Linked DNA regions of Homo sapiens: regions 1, 2 and 3 are each linked to region 4. The links come from fine-mapping of genetic effects on gene expression. A gene starts in region 4. Each other region holds a variant in brackets. All regions are shown on one strand. Distances are between the middles of the regions.

Region 1 (5,185 bases), 160 kb after region 4:
TCTCACCCGCTCTCTGAACCTCCATTTCCTCACCTGAGCCCATATAACTCACCTGTGAACTATTTTAACAAGCTTTGGAAAGCACCAGGCACAAAGGGGTGTAGCAGGATGGCTGGATATGGAGGTTTGTTTGCATCCCAGGCAAAACAAACCAAGAAGTTCCAAAAGAAGACTGCATATGTACAATTTTCTAAAGCTCTTCTGGAAGCCTTTGCTGGTGGGATATCTTACTACAGCATAAATGTGTCATCTATCCAGACACCTCCCTGGAAACACTAGTGTTTGAGACCTTCCTCCACCCAAGCCACCCCAAGGGAATGGGTCAGAGAGTAGTAGGCACAGCCAGGTGTGGCCTGGCTTTCCTTTAAGGTAGGGCAGAGTAGATGGTAAACAGTGGCCAGAGAGTGGGCTTTGAAGCCACACACCACTGGGCTGAAATCCAGGCTCCACCAACTACTACCTTATCTCCCTGCACCCTTTAGTGTCTGTTTCCACATCTATTATATTGGTACAATCATCAGCTTGTGGGATTGAAGATGAACTCAGAGAAAGCAGGTGCAGCTCCTGTCACACAGGGCATTTCCTCCCCATGAAAGAATCAAATCCCAGCCCCTAAGCCTGACACATACGGCCCTTCACAATCATCACCCTCTGACAATAAGCAGAGTCCTCTACCAACTAGGGGGGCACTGCAGCCACAGGAGGCTCTTGGCCTCACCACATACCAAGGACTGTCACAGCTCTGTATGGCTAAGGCCATTCCCCTGGTGTGGAACATTGCTCCCTCAATCACTAGCAGGCTCAGCTACACATCATCTCTTCCATGACCTGGCCTCGCTCTATTGTTATCCTGCTCACACTAGGTGGTAATGGCTTATGTCTTCCTCTACCAGACTAGGAGCTCCTCAAGGGCAGAGACAGGCAACATGGCTGAGTGTGCTGAGGGAAGGAACCCTTGCTAGGTGGGCCCGCCTGGCCCATCTACGGCACCTGCTTCCTCAGCATGGCAAGCCCCAAGCATGAAGGGGTGTGACGGGATGGCTAGATATGGAGGGGACTTCATTCTTGGGTATAGTCAGTGCTACTTGGCCAGGTATGCTTCGTGACACTTCCTGCCCAATCCAGGGAAAAGGCACAACCTCCACTTCACTGATTCCCCACCCTCTGCCCATCAGGACAGGACCCCTGTACCTGCTTACTGCAAGGCCCCATCATCCGCGTCTGTGTCCTGGCTGTGTTCCTGATAGGGAGGAGGTAAGAGAGACCACACATCACTCATTGCCAGCTCTGAGTCCTGCCCTGAGCCATTTGTCCAGAAAAACTTCATGGTCCAGAGGGCATCTAGAGGACACAGTCAGAAGACGCAGGAACAGCCAAGGGGAATGACTATGGGACCAGCCAACAAAGCTGGCTTGGGAACTTGGAAGGGTGGTCTGAGGACCCCACACAGGCCAGTGAAGGGTGTTCTGGGAGTGGCAGGAGCCCCATTTCTGTGCAGAGAGCCTGCACTGGAGAAGGCTGAAAGCCTTATAGACTGGTGAGCTCCCCATCTCTGGGGGCATCCAAGTCTTTGTTAGGGCCTTTATGGACACTGCTATGCCTGAGAAAATAAGATGAAGGATCAGGCTACGCTCAAAGGAGAGATGAGCTAGCATAAGGCAGACCTCCTAACCGTCATGGCCATGAGCCCATCTGTTCTCACGATAGAACCCAGCAGTGCTGAAAAGGAGAAAGCTGCAGATCCAGCAAGTCAGTCTGGACTCCAACCCTGGCTCAGTCCCTACGAGCTGATGCCCTGAGCA[T/C]GCCACTCAGCCTTTCTGAGCCTCGATTTCCTCACAGGGTAAAATGTGGGAACAGAATACTCTGCATAGTACAGGGCTCTTGTTAAGGTTATGTGAAGTTAGAGAGTATGATCTGGGTCTTGGTGCTCAATGAGCGCTCATTAAGTAAATGAGCAGCAAGTGTACAACCCATATCCCACAGACTCAGAGTTTGGTCCACCCTCCCACTCAACATAAGCTCCTTGTCAAATGGCCTGCCGGCCTCAGCCTGAATAGTTCTAGTAACAGGCGGGGAGCTCACCCCCTTATGAGACAGCTTTTGCTTCATGCTTAAGCAGCAATGGCTTTTAGAAAAACCCACCTCCTGGCTGTGGCCTCCACAAGCCACCCCAGCCCTGCTCTGAAGCTCTGCAGGCCGTGTGTGCTCCCTTATGTCCGAATCTCCCATTCTCCAACTCATGTGGAAACCGGAGGCCAGAATGTGCCCGCATTTGGGGGAGGTCTGCCCTAGGCCTCAGTGGGACTTCTGATGGTGTCTGAGATAGGCAAGTGCCCCCTGCTCATTCTTCCCTCTTTCCCCCAGGACCAGAACCCCTGGGAAGGAGAGAACAGGAAGTTCACAGTGGGGGCAACCAGCTCAGGCTGCCCATTCCCCTGTTGGCCTCCTGAGAGTAGGAGCACAGTCGAGTCCCAGTCGTGCCCCTGGCCAGGCCCTCACCAGCTCTTCCTCGCTGTGTGTCAGGAGCCCTTCCTCATCGCCGTCGTCTCGGGTCCGTGCTTCCCCCTGGGGCAGGCCTGCCTCAGAAGTTGTGTTCTCTTGGGGGGCTGGTGGCCGGCTGCTGCCACCGCCACCGCCACCACCACTGCCACCGCCACCGCTGCCACCACCACCGCCGCCGCCGCCGGCGCCACCTCCATCACCCTTCTTCTTGCCATCTTGAGGGGAAGGGGTGGAGGAGGGGAGAATAAAACTCAGCCTGGGGTAGCTGTCTAGGGCAGCACCTTAGCGGAAGCTGGCCTCAGCATGGTGAGTGCAGGTGGTCCAGGATCTGCAGGGCCACCCTAGCTCCTCTCTCCCATGTACTATTTCCCCATGCTCTGCCCTGTGCCCTGGTCATGGAGGTGGGTGAGAATCCTCAGAGGCTGACCTGGATTGGCCTTTTGCTCCGCAGCGATCTGCTCCAAGCGGCTCAGCAGGGCATCGATATTGGACTTGATCTGTGTCAGCTCCGTCTTGATGGCCTGCAGCTCACTGCTCTTTACTGGGAGTGGAGGGGGGACAGGGCTGTCACCTAGGGGGCTGGAGGCTTGACACTAGCACAAAACCTCAGCCCTGTTCTTTCAACCAGGAAAGCAGTTATTTTTTGTTTTGTTTTGTTTTTTCCCTGCTTAGGAAAAAGGTCTCCTCCTTAGACTACCTGGCGTCCATCCCTACAGTGACAGCACACACTTCTGAACCTGGCTATCTTTTCTCCTGATCTCTCAACTCTGAAAGGGACCAAAGACAGACAGGAGCACAGGTGTGTATGTGTGGTGTGCTCTTCTGTGTGCACCTGAGCAAGAACATGTGTCTTTTGGAATCTGAATTCCTGGGTGATTAGTTAAGCAGCATGTGTGTACCAGAGTGAATGTGGAGTAATGGGCCTGGGTAGACCTGTCCTTATCCTTACTAGAGGAAAGATGGCACCATTTCTTCACTGGGCACCATATCCAGCACTGGACTCTCTGTGCCCAACACAACCCCTCCTCCTAAAACATCAGCTGTTTCCTCTTAGAAATGCATGAAAATACTTGGCTGTGTTAGAGCAGCAGAACTGTGGAAGACTTGTTGTTTTATCTATGTTCCAATGTAAAAAATGTGATTCTATTATTTTGCTAATGATAAAAATGCAAATTACTTAGGAATATGATACAGTCACTCACACTTGATCTTGGCTGAGCTGGTGGTGACAGCTGTGGAGCGGGCAAAGAGCTTGACAGGTACGTTAGTTTTGACACGCCGGACCAAAGGGACTGTGACCCGGGGTCGCTTCACAGGGACCGCCCTGGGCACTGGCACGGGCGACAGACGGCCCCGGTAGTCGAAGAGCCTGTGAGGGCAGATGGGCCAGAGGCTGCAGCATGGCTTGTGGCCACCAGGGCGGTATTGCAGCTCCGGCTACAAACGTGTGTGGCTGGTGAGGGGCTGGGAGGCCTGCACTACACACCTCTGCTGGCTCCTAGCAAGCCCTGGAGTGAAGAGGAAGGGCTTGCCGGACCCTGATGGCTGTTGGGATCCTCACTACCTCACTACAACCTCTCCAACCATCCAGGCCCAGTAAGGGCAGGCAAGGCATCAGGTGGTAGCAGTTATACCCCATTCAAAAGAGGAGACATCCCTAGGTCCCCTGGCACCCAGGCCTGCTCTATTACATGACCTGGCTTCTGCTTGGTCAACTGCCACCCCAACCTCTGCTCAGAGTTTGCAAATCTCAAAGCAGCACAAATCCCCAGCTAGGAATAGAGAGGTATGGGAGTGGGGGTCAACTGAGCCTACCTGAGCCTCAGTTTCCCCATATGCCAAATGAGGATGGCTATCCACATTCAGTGTCCACCCAAGGGCACAGCATGAAAGAATTCGGTTAAAAACACACTTTAGAACGTGTAATAGATGAAAGGTCAGGGTACTGAGACCCTCAATTCACGAACCCATGACCTCAGAGGCATAAGACTGAACTCTAAGCCCTTTCCTTACTTGACCTCCTTAATCACCACATCCTTCGTGCTCCATTCCAGAGACAAAGGCCAGGGGCTTGGTAGAGTATCAAGGTTGGGCAGCTCAATCAGACCCCCCCAGGGCTCCCAGGCTGTGCACTGCCCCCAACCAAAGTCATCTCCAAGCCCTCTCTAGGAGGGCTTCCTTTCCAGCTGACCAGGCAGAAACTCAGTAGGCTGAGAAGTGGTCTCTCTGACATCTGTTGCTGCCACCTTTTTCAGGGAATCGCAGCCCAGGGGGTAAACTTTGGGTCAATTTTCCTGACAACGGCCAGGAAACCTGCCATCACTGGGCAAAAGCCCCATTCCTTGGGGCTCCTTTGTTCAGGGAGCCCCTTCCTGGAGGTGGTGATGGCTGCAGATGGAGAGTCTCTGGGAATGGATCCGATCCCAGACCCTGCATTTCTGCCCCCAAGGGGAGGGAACGGCTCTGGCCTTGGTCAGAATCACTGAACCACAGAATCCCAGAGCTGGAGGAGCCTGGAGAGATCACTTGGTGCAAGCCCATTTCACAAACTGGGAAGGGAATTTGCCCAAGATCACATAATCCATTCAGTGGCAGAGCTGAGATTAGCATCTAAATCTTCTGACCCCCAGGCTAAGACACTTTCCACTACACCACACTGTCTCCTGAAACGACTCACAGGGGC
Region 2 (5,331 bases), 20 kb before region 4:
TCCTGGTGAGACTCCTTGTGCAGAGATGATTAGCTCACAGAGCGTTGTAAGCACGTACTCGCAACACCTGAGCATGCCGCAATGGCAACAGGAGGTATCTTCACAATTATGATGGTAGTACAGTATGTACTGCAGTTGTTTACACAGTTATGATTTAGTACTACATCTTTACATTTGGTTATTTTCTTTCTATTTTGAATGGTATGTACTGTCTGTGTGTACATATGTTTTGGGAAATTTTAATTTTTTATAATAGATTTATGTATATTGTATGATAGCAAGTGATAAAATAGACTAGTATCTACATATATTTTATGCATTAATGACATACTTTTTTTTCATTTTTTAAATATTTCTAGGTAACAAGATTCACCTGTTTTTTCTAATTGTCAATCTTCAAAAATATTTTCCAATTTAAAAAGTCAGCTGGGCAAGGTGGCTCACCCCTGTAATCCCAGCACTTTGGTAGGCTGAGGCAGGTGGATCACCTGAGGTCAGGAGTTCGAGACCAGCCTGACAAACTTGGCGAAACCCCATCTCTACTAAAAATACAAAAACATTAGCTGGGCATGGTGGCATGTGCCTGTAATTCCAGCTACTCGGGAGGCTGAGGCATGAGAATCGCTTGAACTCGCCAGGTGAAGGTTGCAGTGAGCCAAGATCACGCCACCGAACTCTGGCCTGGGCAACGAGAGCGAAAACTCCATCTCAAAAAAAAAGAAAAAAAAAAAAAGACATAAAATAACCAATGTATAAGTGGACCCATGAGTTCAAACACATGTGTTCAAGAGTCAACTGCATTTTTTAAGTTTTAATTTTTTGTTGTTGTTGTTTTGAGACAGAGTTTCACTCTTGTCACCAGGCTGGAGTGCAATGGCTCAAGCTCACTGCAACCTCCACCTCCCGGGTACAAGCAATTCTCCTGCCTCAGCCTCCCAAGTAGCTGGGATTACAGGCGCCCACCACCACGCCTGGCTAATTTTTGTATTTTTAGTAGAGACGGGGTTTCACCATGTTGGCCAGGCTAGTCTCGAACTCCTGACCTCAGGTGATTCACCCACCTTGGCCTCCCAAAGTGCTGGGATTATAGGCGTGAGCCACCGCATCCGGCCTAAGATTTAATTTTAAACAAATATGTTAAATAAATAGGTGGAACTCAGATATGGCAAAGTTATAAATGTGGTTCTGAAATGACTGAGGTTTGGGAAACACCACATTCATCCAAAAGTATGAGTGATGGTGAAATTTCAGGCAGGGGCTAACTAGTAGAGGAAGCTGCTTTTCGTAACCTATTTTGCTCAGTGGACTTCAGCTCCCTGGGCTTCTGTGGGTGTCTGGCTCAGAGCTCAAGCCAGGAAGTCTTTAGTAGCTTTCAGTTTCTTTTGTTAATATAGGCCTGAAAAATCTTTCATTTAGTTCCTAGCCAGAGGTTGGGGGTCCTCCTTCTTTAAGTCCAGTCTCACCCCAACAATGAGAACTCCCAGAACTTCCCTGCCCTTACCTTAGAAGATCTTTTCTTTTCTGCTGCTTTTCTGCCGATCTGTTTGGATTTCTTGTTCAGCGCTTCAAAGAGAGACAAAAGGAGCAAAGTCAGATGTTTCTGGGGACGTTGAGCTGCAGTGAAGTGAGAGGGGCAGAGGGGGCTTGGGAAGTCACAAGGTCAGGGAGAGGAGAAGAAGCGTGCTGGATGAGTCACACTGTAGGACTCAAGCCAGTAGGTTCTTGTTAGCCCGGCTACTGACCTGGAGCCAGGCACTGATAGCAACGTGTCCTCTGAGGGAAGGCAAATGGGAAATCCAAGCAGGCACTGGGATCTGCCTGTGACACTCTTGTGGGGCCTGGTCCCTCGACCTAAGTGAGCTTGGGCCACTCAGAGCCACCCCAGGTGCCCCTTCCTTCATCTCCATTGTGGCAGGCACAGGAACATTGTGATACCCAGAAAATGGACTCCTGTCTTGTACACAGATGCACCTGTGTTTCCTATTTTCCATTCCTGAGAGCTCTGGAGCCAGGAGGACCTGATTTGAATCCTGACTCTGCCAATATAATGACTATGTGGCTGTGGGTAACTTACTTATCCTCCATGAGACTCAGTTTTTTCATCTGCAAAAAAGGTTCCATAATATCTGCCTTGCAGTATTGTCTTGAGGATAAATGAAGTCTGTTTATAAAGTGAAAAGTCTGTTACACTGAAGATCAATAAATGTTGATGTTCCTCCCTTCCCTGTCTGATATGTGTAGAATATCCTCTTTCTTTCTTCTTCTTCTTTTTTTTTTCTTTTGAGACAGAGTCTCACTCTGTTGCCCAGGCTGGAGTACAGTGGTGCGATCTCGGCTCACTGTGACTTCTGCCTCCTGGGTTCAAGTGATTTTCCTGTCTCAGCCTCCCAAGTAGCTGGGATTACAGGCATGTACCACCACACCTGGCTAATTTTTGTATTTTTAGTAGAGATGGGGTTTTGCCATGTTGGCCAGGCTGGTCTCAAACTCTTGACCTCAGGTGATCTGCCCACCTTGGCCTCCCAAAGCGCTGGGATTAGAGGTGTGAGCCACCGCGCCTGGCCGATTATTTATTTATTAAAAAATTTCTTTTTTGAGTCAGGGTCTGTCTGTCACCCAGGCTGGAGTGCAATGGTGTGATCATAGCTCACTGCAGCGTCGACCTCCTGGGCTCAAGCAATCCTCCTGCCTCAGCCTCCCAAATAGCTGGAACCATAGGCATGCACCACCATTCCCGGCTAGTTTTTGTTTGTTTGTTTTTGAGACAGGATCTCACTCTGTCAC[T/C]CAGGCTGGAGTGCAGTGGCACAATCATGGCTCATTGTAGGCTCAAACTCCTGGGCTCAAGTGATCCTCCTGCCTCAGCCTCCCAAGTAGCTAGGACTACAGGCGCATGCTACCATGCCTGGTTAATTTTTGTATTTTTAATAGGGACGGGGTTTCACCCTGTTGACCAGGCTGGTCTTGAACACCTGAGCTCAAGAGATCTGCCCGCCTCAGCCTACGAAAGTGCTGGGATTACAGGTGCATGCCACGTGCCTTGCTAGTTTTTAAATTTTTCTGTAGAGACGGGGTCTCCCTATGTCGCTCAGTCTGGTCTTGAACTCCTAGGCTCAAACAATCCTCATGCCTCCAGCTTCCCAAAGTGCTGGGATTACAGGTGTGAGCCACCTCACCCAGCCTCAAATATCCTCGTTTCCTAGCAAAAGCCGAGGTAGTAAGAGATATTAGTTTTGAGCTTAGGTTCTGGAGTTAAGTACCTGATTTTGAATTCTGGCTTTGCCAGTTAAAAACTGTGTGATCCGTGCTAGTTACTTAATTCTCCTAAGCCTCAAGTTCCTCAACTGTGAAATATGAATAAAGACCATACTCACCTCACAGTGCCTACCACACAGTATGTCTATGATTATTATCAGGTGAAGTCAAACCAGATCTCCAATGCCAGGCTCCAGTGCCCCTCATATTTTCCCCTGAGCCTTCATTCCCAACCCTGACATGACAGGACTGGTCCATCCCAGACTTGCATATGTTCTGGAGCATTTCCTGAAGTTTGTTACTGTTGACAGGAGTTCTGTGATTCATTAAGTTTCAGAAATGCTAAATTAAACAAAGTTCACCAAGTGTCTTAACTTCAGGCCTTTCAGAGCCTCTACCATATGCTAAGCTGCTTATTAGACTGGTGGCATGCAGAGCTTTCCCAAACCAAATGAGTCAAGGGCCACCTTATTCTCCCAGGATTATTTCCTGGAACGAGCAAGAAGGAGCCGTGACCATGGCGGTGGATCCTGGTAGCACCCTGGGAAGCATGCTTGATCTCCTGCAGCCCCTCTCCTGGGCCAGAGCCCAGAGGCTAGGTGACTTACCCACAATAGAGACAGAAGGGACATCCAGTAGGTTCACAGAGGAGTTGCTTCTCAGGCTCCTGTCATCTCGGAGCTTCTCCTCAGGTGGCAGGTGGCTGTTGGCAGTGAAGAAGCAGAGGAAGACCAGCAGGGTGGCCAGGAGTAAGCGGGTGACATCCATCCCAGGAGGCCTGAGTGGGACAGAGAAGGTGGTCAGGTGGGTGGGTCAGGGGTAATGGTAAGAGGCCTTCCTGCTTTCTTTGTGCTTCTTTGGGCTGGTGTTGTGACCCTGTTAGGCAAGTGTCCTGGTGGAGCTGGAGGATTAGCAAGGCTTAGGATGGGGAAGGGGAATTGATGAGGGAAGAAGAGAGAAGAGAGATGGGAAGAGGAAGAGAGAAAGACAAGGAACAGAAGGAGATTGGAGCAAAGAGAAAAAGCAATGCATTGCACTGGTCTCTGCTGTCCAGAGGGTGGTGTGTTGGCTGCTTCTGTGTGTTTTTTTAATGTCTGTGGCCCCAGGAGACCCCAGGCCTGGGCAGAGTTGTTGAAAGGCCCCCAGTAGGGCCTCACAGTAGCAGAGATTTTATTAAGATGTACAGAATAAGGCTAATAAATTAAGTCTCAGTGAGAAAGATGAAGAGGTAAGTGGCCCCTTCAGACAAGCATATATGTTGGCTCATATCCTAGATTCCCAAACCCAGAGAGAACGAATGCAGGTATAGTTTGTGTCAGGAGGATGGAGCTGTTGACATAGGCCCCCTGGATTTATGTATTTATTTATTTGCTAGCTGGATTTTTTTTTTTTTAGATGGAGTCTCTCTCTTGTTGCCCAGGCTAGAGTGCAGTGGCATAATCTCGGCTCACTGCAACCTCCACCTCCCAGGTACAAGTGATTCTCCTGCCTCAGTCTCCTGCCCCAGTAGCTAGGGCTACAGGTGCCCATCACTATGCCAGGCTAATTTTTGTATTTTTTGTAGAGACAGGATTTTACCACATTGGCCAGACTAAGCATTTTATATTTTCTAACTCTTTTTATTTTTTTTGAGACAGAGTCTTGCTCTGTCAGCTAGGCTGGAGTGCAGTGGCACGATCTTGGCTCACTGCAACCTCCTCCTCCCAGGTTCAAGAGATTCTCGTGCCTCAGCCTCCAGAGTAGCTGGGATTACAGGTGCCCACCACCACACCTGGCTAATTTTTGTATTTTTAGTAAAGACGGGATTTCACCATGTTGGCCAGGCTGGTCTCGAACTCTTGTCCTCAAGTGATCCGCCAGCCACTGCCACTGCACCTGGCCTATATTTTCTAACTCAAGCTCATATAGTTTTTTTCTGTTGTCATTGTTTGTTTTGAGACAGAGTCTCACTGTCACCCAGGCTGGAGTGCAGTGGCACAATCTTGGGCCACTGCAGTCTCAACCTCCCAGGCTCAAGCCATCCTCCCACCTCATCCTCCTGAGTAGCTGGCACTACAGGCATGTGCAAACACACCTGGC
Region 3 (5,331 bases), 360 kb after region 4:
GACAGCAACCACCAAAGATGAGGGCCAGGCCAGGGTCCCTGAATCAGAGCAGGGTGAGGGTGGGGCAGGCTCAGTGCAATCGAATCCAGGCTGTGTAAATCACCACACCTCTCCAGGCTGTGATTTCCTCACCAAAATGGGGATCATGTTTTATGTGGCAGACATTGCATGTTAACAACTCTACACCCACTTGCTCTACTTCTTTAGGAGGAGAATCACATTTGTTTTCAGGATGGGGAGGAAAGGTACCACTGAAAAAACTCACTCTTCCCGCTTCCCTTGGAGCAGAGGCCACTATGTGGCAAGAGATAACACATAAGGCCGGGCGCGTTGGCTTGTGGCTGTAGTTTCAACACTTTTGTAGGCAGACGCAGGAGGATCGCTTGAGCTCAGGAGTTTGAGACCAGCCTGGGCAACATAGCGTGACCTGTCTCTACAAAAAAAAAAAAAAAAATTTCCGGGTGCGGTGGCTCATGCCTGTAATCTCAGCACTTTGGGAGGCCGAGGTCAGTAGATCACCTGAGGTCGGGAGTTCAAGACCAGCCTGACCAACATGGTGAAACCCTGTCTTTACTAAAAATACAAAATTAGCCGGGCGTGGTGGCACATACCTGTAATCCCAGCTACTCGGGAGGCTGAGGCAGGAGAATCGCTTGAACCCAAGAGGCAGAGGTTGCAGCAAGCTGAGATTTCACCATTGCACTCCAGCCTGGACAACAAGAGTGAAACTGTCTCAAAAAAAAAAAAAAAATTAAGTTAGCCAGGTGTGGTGGCACACACCTGTAGTCCCAGCTACTCAGGAGGCCGAGGTAGGAGGTTCACTTGAGCCTGGGAGGTTGAGGTTGCAGTGAGCTGTAATCACACCACTGCACTCCAGCCTGGGTGATGGAGTGAGACCCTGTCTCAAAACAAAGAAGCAAACAAAAGACAGAAGACATGGGGCATTTGGAGATGAGATGCCTGGAAGTGCAACAAGAGGGTTAAAGCCGCACCCCAAGGGTGCTAAAATGTGAAGATCAAAGGTGTCCAAGTCCCTGGCAGCTTCATGGAGCCACTAAGTCACCTGGGGCTGCCATATCCAGACTTCTGAATGGCACTGGGGTTTGAATGCCTCTGTGAGGACGAAAGACAAGGCTCCTGGCCCTGTGAGAGCCCTCCAGCTGAAACTAGGCTCCCTACATCAGGAAAAAGCTGGAAGTCAGCTGTTTCTTCTTGGGACTGGAAAAACTGCCCAATAACCTTGGGCTGCAGCCTAGAAGTGGGTGTCTTGCCCTGGGCCATAGAAAAAAAAAAGTCACCCAAGATAAACTGAAAAAACAAACAAAGCAAAAAGAAAGAGAGAAACTCAATAGGTGGGTTTGACAGTAGTCTGTCATATTCATTTACTGGCCCTGTCATAATAAAACAGTAGAGTGGCTTAAGCAACAGCAATCTATTAACTTTCAGTTCTGGAGGCTAGAAGTCCCAGATCAGGGTGCTGGTGTTTGGTTTTATCGGAGGTCTTGCTCTTTGGCTTGCAGACGGCCACCTCCTTGCTGTGTCCTCACATGGTCTCCCTTGCGCATGCTCATCCTTCCTGCCCCTTGGTGCATCCACATTTCCTCTTATAGGGACACCAGTCAGATTGCATTAGGGGCCACCCTGATAGCCTCATTTTAACTTAGTCACCTCTTCAAAGACCCTATCTCCAATATAATCACACTCAGAAGTATTGGGGGCTATAGAACACCTATCAGAGGTGTTCGCCCAGAATACAGCACAGAGAGAGATAAAGAAATGTGAAACATAAAGGGGAAGTTAAGATGGAGGATGAAATGAAATGATCCATTATATATCTAATAGGATGTACAACAGGAATAGGAATTCCAATAAGAGACAGTAAAGAGGATGTGGGAAAAGCAATAAAGGAAACTATAATAGGGGCCAGGCATGGCCCAGAACTTTGGGAGGCTGAGGCAGGCAGATCACTTGAGGTTAGGAGTTCGAGACCAGCCTGGCCAACATGATGAAACCCTGTCTTTACTAAAAAATACAAAAATTAGCCAGGTATGGTGGCGGGCACCTGTAATCCCCGCTACTCAGGAGGCTGAGACAGGAGGCGGAGGTTGCAGAGAGCTGAGATCACACCACTGCATTCCAACCTGGGTGACAGAGTGAGACTCTGTCTCAAAAAAATAAAATAAAATAAAATAAAATATAGTAAAATATAATATATAAGAATTTTTCAAATTGAAGAAAGCACTGTCTTCACAGAGAAAAGCCATAGTTCAGAGTGGGATAAAAATAAATCTAGGCTGAGTGCAGTGGCTCAAACATGTAATCTCAGCACTTTGGGAGGCCAAGGCAAGAGGATCACTTGAGTCCAGGAGTTCAAGACCAGCCTGGACAATATAGGGAGACTCTGTCTCTA[CAAATAA/A]TTTTAAAATTAGCTGGGTGTGGTGGCATGTGCCTGTGGTCCCAGCTACTTGGGAGGCTGAGGCAGGAGGATTACCCGAGTTCAGGAGGTCAAGGCTGCAGTGAACTATGATTATGCCACTGCGATCCAGTCTGGGTGACAGAGCCAGATCTTGTCTCAAAAATAAACAAATAAATAAAATCTACGCTTAGGCATGTCTAATTGCACTTGGACAACTTTAAGGGTAAAGAGAAAACTTTTGAAGCTGCCAGAAGGGTGGGAAAGACAGATTCCTTTCAAAGAAACAATTAGACTAAAAAATAGACTTCTAATTAGCAACAATAGGAGCCAGAAAGGAGTAGACTAATATCTCCAAACACAGTGAAAAAATACTTGTCAGCCTAGAATTCTATACCTAGCTAAACTGTCACTGAAGAGTGAGATCAAAACATATTTCCAGGTTGGGCGTGGTGGCTCATGCCTGTAATCCCAGCACTTTGGGAGGCTGAGGTGGGTGGATCACTTGAGGCCAGAAGTTCAAGACCAGCCTGGCCAACAAGTCGAGACCCTGTCTCTGCTAAAAATACAAAAATTAGCTGGGTGTGGTGGTGCACACCTATAGTCCCAGCTACTCAGGAGGCTGAGGCATGAAAATAGCTTGAACCCAGTGGGTGGAGGTTGTGCCACTGCCCTCCAGCCTGGACAATAGAGCAAGACTCTGTCTCAAAAAAAAAAAAAAAAATATATATATATATATATATTTCCAGATATACATGATTTAGAGTTTACTACCCACAGGCCCTCACCAAAAGATTAAAGGATGTGCTTCAACAAGAAGGAAAATGATTAAAGAGATAGAGAAGTGAATCCCATCTTGGTCATGTTATTTGAGTCTTTGATCAAGTTCAACCTGAAGATACTCCTGAACTTTTCAGTTTCAGGTGCCCACAAAGTCCCAATTCATTGAGGGACGGGGAATGAGTTATAATGTTCTCTCATTTTCAACCAAAAGAGCCCTGATTGACACCACAGCTTTCCCATAGATGCTAACTAAATCAGTAAGATCGGTTCCCCCAGCTTGTTGTTTGAAAGAGGTAAATAAATATGTGTTAAATAAATGAAACATGGTCCCTGTCTTTGTGAATCATGGAATCTCATAACTATTGATCAGGAGAGTTCTGAAGACATTGAATCTTGGACTCTGTCCCCACCTGTGACATCCTAGTTTATCTGGTCTTTGGACCAAGACCCAGCCCATCTAATGAGATTTCCTTCCTGTTTGTAATCCCCACACCACCACCAGCACCACCACCACCACCATCACACACACACACACACACACACACACACACACACACACACTCCTATTAAGCTCACTGTCCCTCCGGGGCCTGTGCCCACGACACCCTCACAACCCCTTCTCTGTTCCCTAGCGCCACCTTGAACACTTGCCAGGATACGGCTCCCAGCACTGCAGTGTGGTTGGTGAGCAACAGCAGAACACCCACGTGGCTTTTATTCCTCGAGCATCCCACTGACATGTGCCATGTAGTGTCAGATTTGGGGGTGACTTTAGGCAGGTGGAAGCAGACTGGGAAAATGAGGTGGCTGAACTTGATCTCTCCAAGGGTCTTACAGCCACAGTGAAGGGAGCCATCAAAGAGCTGGGTCTCCCAGTTCCCCACCTCAAATAGAGTCGGTCCCTCATGGTTTCTCTTATATATCTGGCTTTGATGTAAGATATTCCTTGGAGAAAGGGCTCTGTAACAAGTTTTGTTTTTGTTTTTGTTTTTTTGAGACACAGTCTCACTCTGTCACCCAGGCTGGAGTGCAGTGGTGCAATCATGGCTCACTGCAGCCTCGACCTCCCAGGCTCAAGTGATCATCAGACCTCAGCCTCCTGAGTAGCTGGGACTACAGGCACGCACCACCATACTAAGCTAATGTTATTTATTTATTTTTTTTTGAAGAGACAGGGTTTCACCATGTTGCCCAGACTGGTCTCAAATTCCTTAGCTCAAACAATCCGCCCACCTTAGCCTCCCAAAACTCTGGGATTACAGGCATAAGTCATGGTGCCTGGCCTATAACAAGTTTTAAAGATAAATTTGGAGCTGGCTATGGTGGCACACAACTGTAGTCCCAGCTACTTGGGAGGCTGAGGCAGGAGGATTATTTGAGAACAGGAGTTCCAGGCTGCAGTGAGCTATGATCAAACCACTGTGCTCCAGCCTGGTCAACAAGCAAGACCCCATCTCTCTTTTTTTTTTTTTTTAGACGGAATTTTGCTCTGTCCCCCAGGCTGGAGTGCAGTGATGCAAACTCGGCTCACTGCAAGCTCCACCTCCCGGGTTCACGCCATTCTCCTGCCTCAGCCTCCCAAGTAGCTGGGACTACAAGGCGCCCGCCACCATGCCCGGCTAATGTTTGTATTTTTAGTAGAGACGGGGTTTCACCGTGTTGGCCAGGATGGTCTCGATCTCCTGACCTTGTGATTCACCCACCTCGGCCTCCCGAAGTGCTGGGATTACAGGCGTGAGCCACCGCGCCAGGCTGCGAGACCCCAACTCTTAAAAAAAAAAAAAAGTTTTGAAAACACCCAGAGTAGATGAAATCTTAAGATCCCATGCAATTCAGTGCTCCACGATCCCTCTGAAAGTGTAGAGACCAGAGAGTGATGGCAGAGACCTTGGGCATCCCAGAGGCCCACCGCTCCCCGTGGAAGACATCTTAGGAAGATGTCTTCTGCCCGCCCTGCTCCAGACAGATTCACCCCGCACCTTTGCAAGGGAAGAAGTCAGTGTAGCGTCCCGCTGCCCTCCTCACTGGGCTCCATGGGAGTATTCGGGCCCAGGCTTGGTGAGATGACCTGGAATAGCTCATCGTGCCTGGGAGCCCCCATTTCCCCTAATGGGCTCATCAGCACAGGCTCCAGC
Region 4 (5,331 bases):
CCAGCCTTGCGTAAAACTTATGGATGAAAGTATTCATCACAATATTATTTATAATGAAAAATTGCAAATGTTACAAATGAACAATTGGAAAATGATTAAACAAGTGATGGCACATTGTGTGGTAGAATATTACGCATATGTTTAAAGAATCATATTTTCTAAGATTACTTGGAAACATTTTGGTAATGTCAAAGGCGGGCACCTCAGACACATTTTAGACATTAATCATCATCATTGTTCTGAGTGGAAGGCCATTCAGAGAGGCTAGAGGTTCTTATTCTGGCTATAAATTATGTGAGTAAAATTCTGCTAACCAATGAAAAATACTGTACACCCATGCTCAAGATGTAGTCCTGGAAATAGCAAGTGAAACATGTCTTCTCACAAGAGAAGTTTTAATGACAAGAGAAGTAAAAATGACAGTTTTAATGATGCATTAGATGAATTTAAACTTTAAATCAGATGCTGCAAATTGGAAGGAAGACTTGCGGTGTTTGTTCTAAATTGCTGCGGACACTTCTAAGAAACTTAGAGCCCACAAAACCATGGTTTATTGTCATGCAAATTACGATCTTGAATGAGAGTTTTTTTGTTTGTTTGTTTGTTTTGAGATGGAGTCTCACTCTGTCGCCCAGGCTGGAGTGCAGTGGCGCAATCTCGGCTCACTGCAAGCTCCGCTTCCCGGGTTCACGCCATTCTCCTGCCTCAGCCTCCTGAGTAGCTGGGACTACAGGCGCCCGCCACCACGCCCGGTTAATTTTTTTGTATTTTTAGTAGAGACGGGGTTTCATCGTGTTAGCCAGGATGGTCTCGATCTCCTGACTTCATGATCCACCCGCCTCGGCCTCCCAAAGTGCTGGGATTACAGGCGTGAGCCACCGCGCCCGGCGAGACAGTTTTTTTTTTTTTTTTTTAAATACAATATTAGAAAAATGTAAAGTATTAGAAAGATGTAAAATTTAAAAATGAAATTCTGCATTAACTGTGAATTCTACTAAATAGAATTACTGGTGGAGCAAATTTATCCATCGAGACTATCTGGTATGTGTTACATATGTATTCTGTTGGTGCTGGCAGATGTCTGTGTGCCTGTATCAACATGTGCTCCACAGTTCTTAGCAAATGCAGTTTCAATCCATAGCTAGCCAGCAGTGGATGTTACCACAGGAAAATGCAGGATTAAAATTGTCCTTGTGTAAAAAAAAATTCAGAATAATTTTTTCTTAACAACACTAAAATTATTTGATCTCTTGGGCTGTATCTACATACACGTACCGATTTCACTATTGTGACTGAATTGGCTAGTCTAATTGTTATGCCTAACAGATGCCAAATTGAATAATATTTTAATGGGTGGTTTGAATCTTCTGTAGACAACCTGCTTCAGAACTCTTCTTTGAGACCAAGAACCATATGGCAGGCCCAGACTGCCTGAGGGGTCCTGAGTTAGAACTTGAGAGAAGACTTGAGGCTGTGTCCCTTCTCAAGGGACAAAAGGACAAGACTCCTTCAGGCAGCTGTTTGTCAGTGTGAAATCTGTCTCCCTGTTCCACTGAAACAGGGGTCAGAGTCTAGGCTTCCCAGATGTTCATTCCCACAGTGTACAAGGAATACAATGCTGATAGGCGATGCTAAATGATTGTTTTAGATCTCCTGACATCATTCCCTTTAGGCTGTTTTATCTATCATTACTCAACAAAGACCTTAGTGGGTACTATATTGGTTTTGTTTATGCTCTCCAGAAATCACTTCTCTGCCTTTTCTCCTTCTCAGTAATCATGTCTTTTGATTTCTGAATTCCTTTACCTGGGGTGCATTCTGCACAAGCACTCATTAAGCATAGCTGAAGCTGAGCTGACAGTCTGTGACAGCTCTCAACAACTTTACAGCAGAAGGAGGGAAGAGGCTTTGATGTGAGATGAAATTTTCTGCAGAAGAGGATTAAGTCAGAACCAAGGAGATATAGCTGAGCAAATCTTAAGAATATGTATGCATTAGTTCTATTTGGAGAAAGTAGAAAAGGTTTTGAGACAGACATTTATGAAAGTGTTTTTCATTTTGTTTTGTTTTGTTGTTTGTTTGTTTTTTGAGTGGGTCCCAGTAAGGCATCCAAAATAACCAAAGAAAACCCAAAATGACTGGCTGGGTGCTGTGGCTCACGCCTGTAATCCCAGCACTTTGGGAGGCTGAGGTGGGCAGATCACCTGAGGCCAGGAGTTTGAGACTAGCCTGGCCAACATAGTGGAACCCTGTCTCTACTAAAAATACAAAAATTAGCCAGGCGTGGTGGTGTGTGCCTGTTGTCCCAGCTACTCAGGAGCCTGAGGTGGGAGAATCGTTTGAACTCAGGAGGCAGAGGTTGCAGTGAGCCAAGATCATGCCATTGCACTCCAGCCTGGGTGACAGTGAGACTCCGTCTCAAAAATAAATAAGTAAATAAATAAAATAAAATAAAAATAATAAAATAAAATAAAATAAAAATTTTAAAAAGGAAACCAAAAATGACTTCACTATGCCATCCCATTTAGCCTCTTTAATCTCCTCCAATGGAAACAGCAGAACAAAATGTTCCATATCACTGAAGCAGAGCGAACTCACCTACAATTGAAAACATTAACCTGAGCTTCCTTTAATGGGCATTAAAATGTGTGAATATGGATATCCATTCAGAAAAGTCAAACATTTACAAAGGAAAAGGAGAGTCTGCAATAAATGGAATTTTGGTCATCTGTTTCATCTCTAATAAATATGAAATGAACAAATGCTACACGTGCAGACTGATCCCTAAATCCTAAATTCTGCTCTGTAAGAGTTATTAGAAATCTGAAACCACAAGCAACTTTCTGAAGACATTTAAAGAAGCATTAAAGTGTGACTTTGGGGTCAGGGTCGATATTTAGGAGTACTTCTTTCTTAGATATACATATAGATATATTTATTTATTCGTTTACTGCTAGGCAATGGAAAAGGCACAGAGTAAAGAGAAAGAAGCCACTAGTTAGCAAAAGATCAACTGCTTTCTTCACACTGAACTCCTCTTAACTACTCTGACCCACAAAAGTGAATCAAAAAAATCTGTTTAACTTTCCAAGAAAGGAGGGATAACTGTTAAGTCCTTTCAACTTTCCAAAGTAGCAGCAGCTTCACTCCTGAAAGCAGATTAAAGTTGCCATCTAAACTCACATGCTTTCCCGCAAAGAGCCCAGGCCAAGGAACTTCCTTTTTCACCTTGCAGCTGTAGAGATTTGCTGCTTGCTCATCTATAACTTCAAAGACAAGAACAAGAAAACAACCAATCATACTACAAAATTATTTCAAACTTCACCACATCTCACAGGCAGGAAGGTTCTTTCAGATCCACAGTGAAAATAGGAAATGTTTCATCAGCTGAAAGGCAGCTGCAAGCAGATCAAGAGAGGTTTTACAAAAGAAGCAAAAGGTAAAGGGTTATCCTTTATTTTACAAAGGAGCTCTCTAGCAACCCAGTTCATATAAAAGTTAAACTTAGAGAAGAAAATAGAATCTCTATAGGCGGCAGAAGAAAAGAAAATTGTTTCCTCCTATTTACGGTGCAAGTGACTGTGCCTCTATTAGCCCCTCTAAGGGTCGCCAAAGCAGAGCGTCTTTCCTGTCCGTGGATAGCAGAGGCAAGGCGTGTTGCTCTGAGATTTTTTAAAGATCCCAGGATCTCCCAGAGCTGGCTTCCCCACCTCATCTCTTTGCTTTCAGCCAAGCAAACGTCATGCCTTCATACTCATTCTGGTTGCCAGAAGTCTTGTGGTCTGTTCTTCCCATATTTCTCCCAATTCTTTAGAATTGGAATTGATGTTGACATTGAGGTTACAAGGGATTGGAAGGGAAGTGGTTGCATCAAGGATACTCCAAGGGCAGAGTTTAATGAAAATTTAATTCAGAATGGATCCCAAGAGACGGAATAAAACAGTCTAATTGAGTTAACCTAGAAAAACAAGTCCTGCCAAAGAAGGGTCTAATTCAGCTTGTTTCAGAAATTCCGGGTGAGTTAAGGAGTAGTTGGTGGAGAAGCTAAACTCTTGATGGGCAGATTGCTGAGGCCCAGCCCACCTTATTAGTAAAATCTCTTTGGGACCTTTTTTTGCAGGAATATTGGTCTCATAATTTTCAGATTTCAGTCAAAGGGCTGTACTTACACAGACTCAAAAACTATGACGCTGCAGTTCTTTTCTTCTCCTTACTTAGTTGGTTTTCCTTGGATCAACTAGAATTTACAAGGTTATGTGAAAGCTGATCACACAAACTGGGTCATTCTTGTCATACCCAACTAAATCAGAGTCTAGGGACCAGGAGGGAAGAAGCACTTGGGGCACAGCACCTGCTCCATGAATTAAATTTTTCACAAGCCCAGCTGCTAAAATGGCCTGCTGTAACCCCAAGACTAGTTTAGTAGCTGCTGAAACATGACTTTAAGAATAGTTTTGCCTACCACCATCACTCACCAATCAGAGTTTGCCAGCTCCCAAATGCTTCTTTTTTCTCTTTTTTTCCCTTCTTTCCAAATGATTCTTTAGTGCCAATGAGCTTTCTTTCAAAACAGTATAGAACATTTCTCTAATAAAACTCCCAACCTTCTTTCTGTTCCTCAGACACACTGAAGACCACCTGGTTAGTGTGTATGCCTCAAACTGCAATCCTTGCTTCCAAAATAGAATGCTTTAAAGTTAGAGATTCATCGCTATGTTTTATTTTGACTTCAACAGTCACAATGTATTGCTTCCTGGATAATGTGGAGCTTAGAGGCTCTGCAGAAGAAAGTAGGTTAATATGGGGCCCTGCAATAAACATTGTCTGTTTTCGTGGTGATGGGTGCAGAAGAGTGGGATAGGGGATGGCACACCCCTACATTATCCTTATTTCTAGGAACCAATTTCTTTTGGTGATTTGTAGAGACAAGGGCAACTGGAAAGATAAGTGAATAGGGAGTCAGGAGATCTGGATTCCAGTTTAGGCTTTGTTACTTTCTCTCTGATCTTGGACAAGTCACATAAACTGTCTGAACACTGCTATCTCATCTACCAACCACACTGGGCTGAAAAGAGGATCCAATGAGATAATGTAGACGCCTTGAAAACTCTGAAGCATTCCACAAATGTGAATGTTTTCCAAATTTTAGTTCATTATATGACCCACCAAGTAAGGCTTTGGATAAAGAATTTGATTGGGAGGCCGAGGTGGGTGGATCACCTGAGGTCAGGAGTTCGAGAAGAGCCTGGCCAACATGGTGATACCCCGTCTCTACTAAAAATACAAAAAATAGCCAGGTGTGGTGGCAGGTGCCTGTAGTCCCAGCTACTT

Which allele goes with the higher level. Alleles are on the strand shown, and positions count from the first base shown. SD is a standard deviation of normalised expression in the study named.
For the expression in unexposed skin of the gene that starts at base 3,250 in region 4, allele T in region 1 goes with a higher level than allele C (moderate effect, 0.58 SD a copy in GTEx).
With allele C in place of T in region 2, the expression in skin of the gene that starts at base 3,250 in region 4 is lower (large effect, 1.1 SD a copy in TwinsUK).
For the expression in tibial nerve of the gene that starts at base 3,250 in region 4, allele A in region 3 goes with a higher level than allele CAAATAA (moderate effect, 0.52 SD a copy in GTEx).

What was found. PIP is the estimated chance that this variant, and not a neighbour inherited with it, causes the effect.
Region 1: its variant is the best candidate, but not a certain one, in a credible set for the expression of ASIP in unexposed skin (GTEx, PIP 0.53).
Region 2: its variant is the best candidate, but not a certain one, in a credible set for the expression of ASIP in skin (TwinsUK, PIP 0.83).
Region 3: its variant is the best candidate, but not a certain one, in a credible set for the expression of ASIP in tibial nerve (GTEx, PIP 0.79).

What each region holds. Positions count from the first base shown.
Region 1 is chr20:34,074,560-34,079,744 of GRCh38, reverse strand. It overlaps RALY (RALY heterogeneous nuclear ribonucleoprotein), which reads right to left. Exons shown (of 10, transcript NM_016732.3): 6 at 3,705-3,871; 7 at 2,930-3,043; 8 at 2,500-2,717; 9 at 1,192-1,240. The coding sequence ends at 1,196. Among named protein-coding and RNA genes, the nearest start is that of MIR4755, 28 kb to the right of the region's middle. RefSeq lists an enhancer at 2,146-3,345. The variant T/C (reference allele first, on the strand shown) is at 1,803.
Region 2 is chr20:34,259,064-34,264,394 of GRCh38, reverse strand. ASIP (agouti signaling protein) reads right to left here. Exons shown (of 4, transcript NM_001672.3): 2 at 3,861-4,030; 3 at 1,502-1,563. The coding sequence starts at 4,020. It also overlaps a transcript of AHCY not described here. Among named protein-coding and RNA genes, the nearest start is that of ASIP, 20 kb to the right of the region's middle. The variant T/C (reference allele first, on the strand shown) is at 2,785.
Region 3 is chr20:33,876,837-33,882,167 of GRCh38, reverse strand. No RefSeq gene overlaps it. Among named protein-coding and RNA genes, the nearest start is that of CHMP4B, 68 kb to the right of the region's middle. The variant CAAATAA/A (reference allele first, on the strand shown) is at 2,411.
Region 4 is chr20:34,239,342-34,244,672 of GRCh38, reverse strand. It overlaps ASIP (agouti signaling protein), which reads right to left and starts at 3,250. Exons shown (of 4, transcript NM_001672.3): 1 at 3,184-3,250. It also overlaps a transcript of AHCY not described here. RefSeq lists enhancers at 1,657-2,158, 3,212-3,361, 3,382-3,451.